Linked DNA regions of Homo sapiens: region 1 is linked to region 2. The links come from fine-mapping of genetic effects on gene expression. Tissue or cell type: whole blood. Region 2 holds a variant in brackets; the other region holds the start of a gene. All regions are shown on one strand. Distances are from middle to middle. Region 1 holds the start of SH3RF3 (SH3 domain containing ring finger 3). Region 2 overlaps SH3RF3 (SH3 domain containing ring finger 3).

What was found. PIP is the estimated chance that this variant, and not a neighbour inherited with it, causes the effect.
Region 1: it holds the start of SH3RF3, and the variant in region 2 is fine-mapped to the expression of SH3RF3 in whole blood (INTERVAL, PIP 0.95).

Annotation. Positions count from the first base shown.
Region 1 is chr2:109,127,724-109,130,624 of GRCh38, reverse strand. It overlaps SH3RF3 (SH3 domain containing ring finger 3), which reads right to left and starts at 1,420. Exons shown (of 10, transcript NM_001099289.3): 1 at 512-1,420. The coding sequence starts at 1,084. It overlaps SH3RF3-AS1 (SH3RF3 antisense RNA 1), which reads left to right and starts at 506. Exons shown (of 1, transcript NR_029193.1): 1 at 506-2,901. It also overlaps a transcript of RANBP2 not described here. RefSeq lists silencers at 1,405-1,604, 1,635-1,684, 1,695-1,764, 2,145-2,204.
Region 2 is chr2:109,228,400-109,231,300 of GRCh38, reverse strand. All of the region lies in intron 1 of SH3RF3 (SH3 domain containing ring finger 3), which reads right to left. It also overlaps a transcript of RANBP2 not described here. Among named protein-coding and RNA genes, the nearest start is that of MIR4266, 84 kb to the left of the region's middle. The variant G/A (reference allele first, on the strand shown) is at 1,139.

The sequences.
Region 1 (2,901 bases), 100 kb after region 2:
AAGCATTCCTCCAAACCCCAGTCCCACTCTGCCTTCTGCCCTCCCCTCCTTAGCCACACCGCAGGCAGGAGGCCCGCGGGCTTCCCAGAGCAGCCATCAGAGCCCTGTCAGAAACGTTAAGGGCTAACTTTTCTCTAGGCAGGCCCAGGGTGTGCAGAGGGAGTGTCTGGGGACCCAGAGGAAGAAGGTCCCCGTTTCTAGGGAGACGCAAGGGCGATGCTAAGTTTAAGAGGCAGGGTAACAAGTCCGGCCAAGGAATCGGGGGTGAGCGACGGGACAGGAAGGCGTGCCCACTCCACAGGAGGATGGGACACACGTGAACAAGCGGCGAGCTGCCCAGGGGCCGGATGCCGCCACCAAGCAAGCGAAGTTGGAGGAAGAGCAACAGCGGAGTGGGCCAACGCAGGACCACCCGTGGTCTCCTCCGCACCTCATCACTGCCCCCCACGCCCAAGCACCCACCCACACACTCCCACGTGCCGTGGCCACTTCCGCCGAGACAGATACTCACCTTTGCCGCCGGCGCGGTCCTGCTGGTCGCCAGCTCCCGCAGACTGCCGGCGGTGCTGCCCGCGGCCGCGGAGAGGAAAACCGGGGAACCCGGGGTGCTGCCTGCCGCGCCGCCCCCGCCGCCCGCGAGCGTGGGGGCCGCACTCTGGCCTGGGATGGGACGCGCGGGCGGGCTGCCGCCGGGGCTGGTGCCCGCGCGGGGCCGCTGACGGATGCCGTCCAGCAGTCGCACCAGCAAGATGTTGGCGGGCAGTTCGTCCACGCCGCAGCCCACCAGGATGCGGCACTCGGGGCAGCGCAGCTCGTGGCGCGAGCACACGATGCTCTCCAGGCAGCGGCGGCAGAAAGTGTGTTGGCATGGCAGCACCTTGGCCGTGGTGTCCAGGCGCTCCAGACACACGGAGCACTCCAGCAGGTCCAGCAGCGACGACTCGTCCATGTCCTCGCCCGCCCCCGCGGCGGTGGCCGCCGCCCGACGCCGCCGTCGCTCGCCTGGCCTGTCCTCGTCGCCCTCGCTCTGCGCAGCAGCGGCGGCCGCCTTGGATGCGCACAGCCAGGACGCTCCGAGCAGCATGGGGGAGGCGCCCGCAGCGGTCTCGCGCGGCTGCCTAGGTCCCGGGGCCGGCGTGGAGCCCGCCACCGGCAGCCAGCATCAGGACTGGGGAGCCGGGCTCCGCCGTGACTTTCTTCACCCCGGCTGGTGGCCCGATGCTAGGGCTGTGGCGGTGCGAAGTGGCTCACCGACCGGCCTGCGTGGCGGGGACCGGCCTGCGTGGCGGGGACCGGCCAGCCGAGCCCGCCCAGTCCTGAGCGCAGCGCCTGCGGCTGCGGGCTACACCTGTCCCGCCGCAAGTCCGCCCCGCGCGGGGGACCGGGGGTGCTGCCGGGCACGAAGCTCAACGGGTTCTGTGCTGCAAGCGGCGGCTCGCGCCTGGGAGACCAGCGGCAGGAAGTGCGGGCAGCGGCCGGCCAGGTCCCCGGGGAGGCCGGGGCGCGGCGTGCACGCTCCTCCGCGCAGCTGGCGAGCCGCACCGCCCCCGCGGCACCTCCATGCGCCCCTGGCCTGCTCGCTAGTCGCTGTCCTCCAGAGGATTCAGCAGGACCGTTCCTCTTCCTCGGCCGCGAGCACGTGCGCGGGGGTGCGCGCGGAGGTCACGGTCACTGCGGGGCTCAGGGAAGGAGGCGCCGTGCCTGCAGGACTTCCCTTCGCTTGGGCGCAAGCCGGCGATTAGCCTGGTCCCCTAGGACATCTCCAGGGCTCCGGGGAACCTCTCCTGCGCAGGCTTGGCCCTGCCTCCTCCAAGCGTCCGAGTCTTTTTCGGCTTTTCGTGAGCCTCAGAGAGGGACGTTTCCTGCCAACGCTGCTGCGAAGGAAAGTTTGGGCGGCGTTATCCCGACTGCCTTCCTCGCCAGCGCCGGCGAGCAGCTTGGGGACACAGCCGACGCCCGGGCATCCTCCCCGACGACCCCCCGGAGCGCTCCCAGTTCAGACTCCTTTCCGAGAAGCGCGCAGAAGTGACAGCCCCGGAGCTTCGTTCCGGTGTAGGTGTGGGGATGCGCCGCAAGGCAGGAGGGGAAGGCGCTCCAGTTGAAGGGGGCACCCCGGGGCCCGCGCCGACTCCTCCCGGCGCAGCCTTGGCTCGCCGGAGTCGCGGGTCGGAGGCTGGCGCCGCTGCCCGCCGACCAGCACCCTGGCGCCAGGCGCCCGGCTCCACGCCGCACCCTTGGCGACGCTGTGCGAGGGGCTCTAGCGCCCGCCGCGGCGCAGTCTCGTGAACCCCCGCTCCAATTTTTTCCTACGGAGGCGCAGAGGAGGGTGAATTCGCGCTCTCCTTCCCGACGCCCCGGCTTCTGGGAGCGTCAGAGCAACGGAAGTACGTACAGGAGGACCGAGAGCAGCAGGGAAGTTTGGCGGTGGGCTGGGGTCGGCGGCGAAGATTCCCTGCCGTGCGCTGCCCCCTCGTGGCCGCTTTGCGTTCCCGTCGGGAAGGGCTGGGTTCCAGTCCAGGGCCCAGCACAAACCAGGATTGGTTGGACGCTGCACAGCGAGTTCAGTCAGGGCTAACATCAGAAGAGTCGTGGGGGGCCTGCCTATCGGCCAGCCTGTCCTTGTGGTTTGTGAAGTTGTATGATCTTTCTGTTATTATTAAGGAAAAAAGTAGTATTTGTTGAGGCTAAAAGGCCAAGAGCGTGCTATATATTATTTAATCCTCTAAACAGCTCTGCCAGATAATTATTTTATTTATTTATATTTACTTCCATAGCTTTAGACAGGATCTCGTTCTGTCAGGCAGGCTAGAGCGCGGGGTGCTATCACGGCTCACTGCAGCCTCAAACTCTTGGGCTCAAGCCATCCTTTCACCTCAGCCTCCTGAATAGTTGAAACTACAG
Region 2 (2,901 bases):
ACCTCTCCCACATCCACCCACCAATTCCTCTCAGCTGTAGAAGAAAGAGCAGTAATTAGAGCAGGAAACAGCCCCTGGATGAAGAACTGCTCCAGCCTGACAGTTCATCCGAGACTTCGGCAAAGCCGCTCTGGCCTGGCTCCGGGAGGAGAGGAGATGGGGTCACTAAGTCCATGCTAGGCAAGCCACCTAAGCCTCCTTCCAGGCAGGGACAGCAGATGGAAACTGTGTCCCAGAAGCCAACTCTGCTGCTCTGTCCGTGCTGACATTCAGGAACTGTGACAATTAATCACACATAACAAAGTGTACTTTTGTCTTACACAATTCAACCCAACTCCTACTGCAAATGAGTTTGACCTATCCTGCCTTCCTGTTTGAGCTGTCCCTTAGCCGAGATGGGAGAAGCCCCCAAAGCCCCCAAAGGGAGTCCTATTGGCCAGTGAACTCCTAGGGGATTTAGAAATGAAGTGGAATTTTTTATCTTCTCTAGAAACAAACACAGATGCTCCAGCACTTATGATAGGGTCATGTCCAGACAAACCCATTTTAAGTCAACAATATCATAAGTTAAAAAATGTACTTAATGCTGGTGACATAGCTGATGATCCCCGACTTACGATTTTCTGACATTACAATGGGTTTATCAGGACATAACCCCACCATAAGTGGAAGACTGACTTACAATGGGGTTACAGTTTCTTTTCTTTCCTATTTTTATTTTTTAAGATGATCTCTCTCTGTTGCCCAGGCTGGAGTGCAGTGGTACTATCTCAGCTCACTTCAACCTCTACCTACTAGGTTCAAGCAATTCTCCTGCCTCAGCCCCCCGAGTAACTGGGATAACAGGCATGCACCATCATGCCCAGCTAATTTTTCCATTTTTTTTAGTAAAGATGGGGTTTCACCATGTTGGCCAGGCTGGTCTCAAACTCCTGGCCTCAAGAGAGCCCCCCACCTTGGCCTCTCGGAAGTGCTGGGTTTACAGGCGTGAGGCACTATGCCTGGCCAGGGTTACAGATTTCTACTGGAAGTATATGGCTTTTGCACCATCATAAAGTCAAAAACTCTAAAGTCAAACCATCCCAAGTTGAGGAATGTCCGTATTTGAATGGATAAACAATATATAGTATATCCATAC[G/A]ACGGAATATTAGTCTGCCTTAAGAAGAAAAAAAAAATCGGCCAGGTGCGGTGGCTCGCACCTGTAATCCCAGCACTTTGGGAGGCTGAGGCGGGCGGATCACGAAGTCAAGAGATCGAGACCATCCTGGCTAACATGGTGAAACCCTGTCTCTACTAAATATACAAAAAATTAGCCGGGCATACTGGCGTGCGCCTGTAGTCCCAGCTACTTGGGAGGCTGAGGCAGGAGAATGGCGTGAACCCAGGAGGCAGAGCTTGCAGTGAGCCAAGATTGCGCCACTGCACTCCAGCCTGGGCAACAGAGCGAGACTCCGCCTCAAAAAAAAAAAAAAAAGAAAGAAAAAGAAAAGAAAAAAAATCTAAACACATACCAAAACATGGATGAGCCTGGATGATGTTAAGTGACATGCCAGACACAAAGGACAAATATTCTATGATTCCAGTTATACGAGGTACCTAGATGTAGTCACCATGTCTTATTTTCTGTATGCTGATGCTTTCACATCTGGGGCCTTCCTGACCCTGGAGGGGCTGCCAATTCCTAGAGATAGTGAACAACTTGCTCATGAGTGTGCCTTTTTAATGCAAACCCACCAATTCAGAGCCCACATCCCAAATCCCTCCCGTATCGGGCTCTCAAGCTCCAGGCCACTATCCACCTGCCGTGACCACCCCAGGACCAGTCTGAGAAGCTGTCATAGCCAGAGGAGTCCATGGAGACATGACAGCTGTGAGGCAGTATGGGATCCTGGGACAGAAAAAGGATGGCAGGAAAAAACTACAGCTTTGCAAATGGAGAACTATCATGTTAATGTATGAAAAGTACCATGCTAATGTAAGGTGTTAACAACAGAGGAAGTGGGGTGTGGGTATGTCAGAATTCCTCATACTCTACTCACCACTGCTCCAAATAAGAAGTGTACTAAAAAGGGGGAAGGGAACAGCTGTGTGACATAATAAAAATACATATTTGGTCTTTGTCCCTGGTTCCTGGCACAGAGCTCCTAAATCCCTGGTAATTTTCTGAGTGATAGCGGGGCTAGGAGTATCTTTTGTTCTGATATTTGGTCTTTGATTGAGGTTCCCAACACAGAGCTCCTAATCCCTTGGTATTTGCTGGGTGATGGAAACCTTTTTTCTGTGCTGATGAAGTGACTCTGGTGGCTCCTGGATGAAGGCTGGTCACCAGAAAGACCTAGCCATGACCAGAAACTTGGAGTTTTCAGCTCCATACCCCATCCTCCAAAGAGGGCAGAGGGGCTGGATATTGTGTTGATAACCAATCATGCCTGTGTGAAGAAGCCTCCATAAAAATCCCTACAAGTTGGAGTTTGGGGAGATTCTGGCTGGTGGATGCATCCACCCACCTGGAGAGGGTACATCTAACTCCACAGAGACGGAAGCCCCTGTGCTCAGGACCCTTCCAGACCTCGCCCTATGTACCTCTCCATCTGGCTGCTTGCCTGTATCTTTTATCATGCCCTCCACTAATATAATAAACCAGATTTGCAGCCACGCCACACAGAAGTTCCAGGTAACCTGAAGACACCTCTTGCAACTGGCCTCTGAAGTGAAGGCAGCCTGATGAGATTGAGCCCTTAACCTGCAGGGTCCATACTAGCTCCACATGGAAGGGGTCAGAACTGAACTGAATACCCAGTTGGCATCTGCAAACAACTGGAGAATTGCTTGGTGTGGCAAAACCCCACACACATCTGGTATCAGAAGTGTTCTGGGTGCATTGTGGGTATCAAGGAAAAC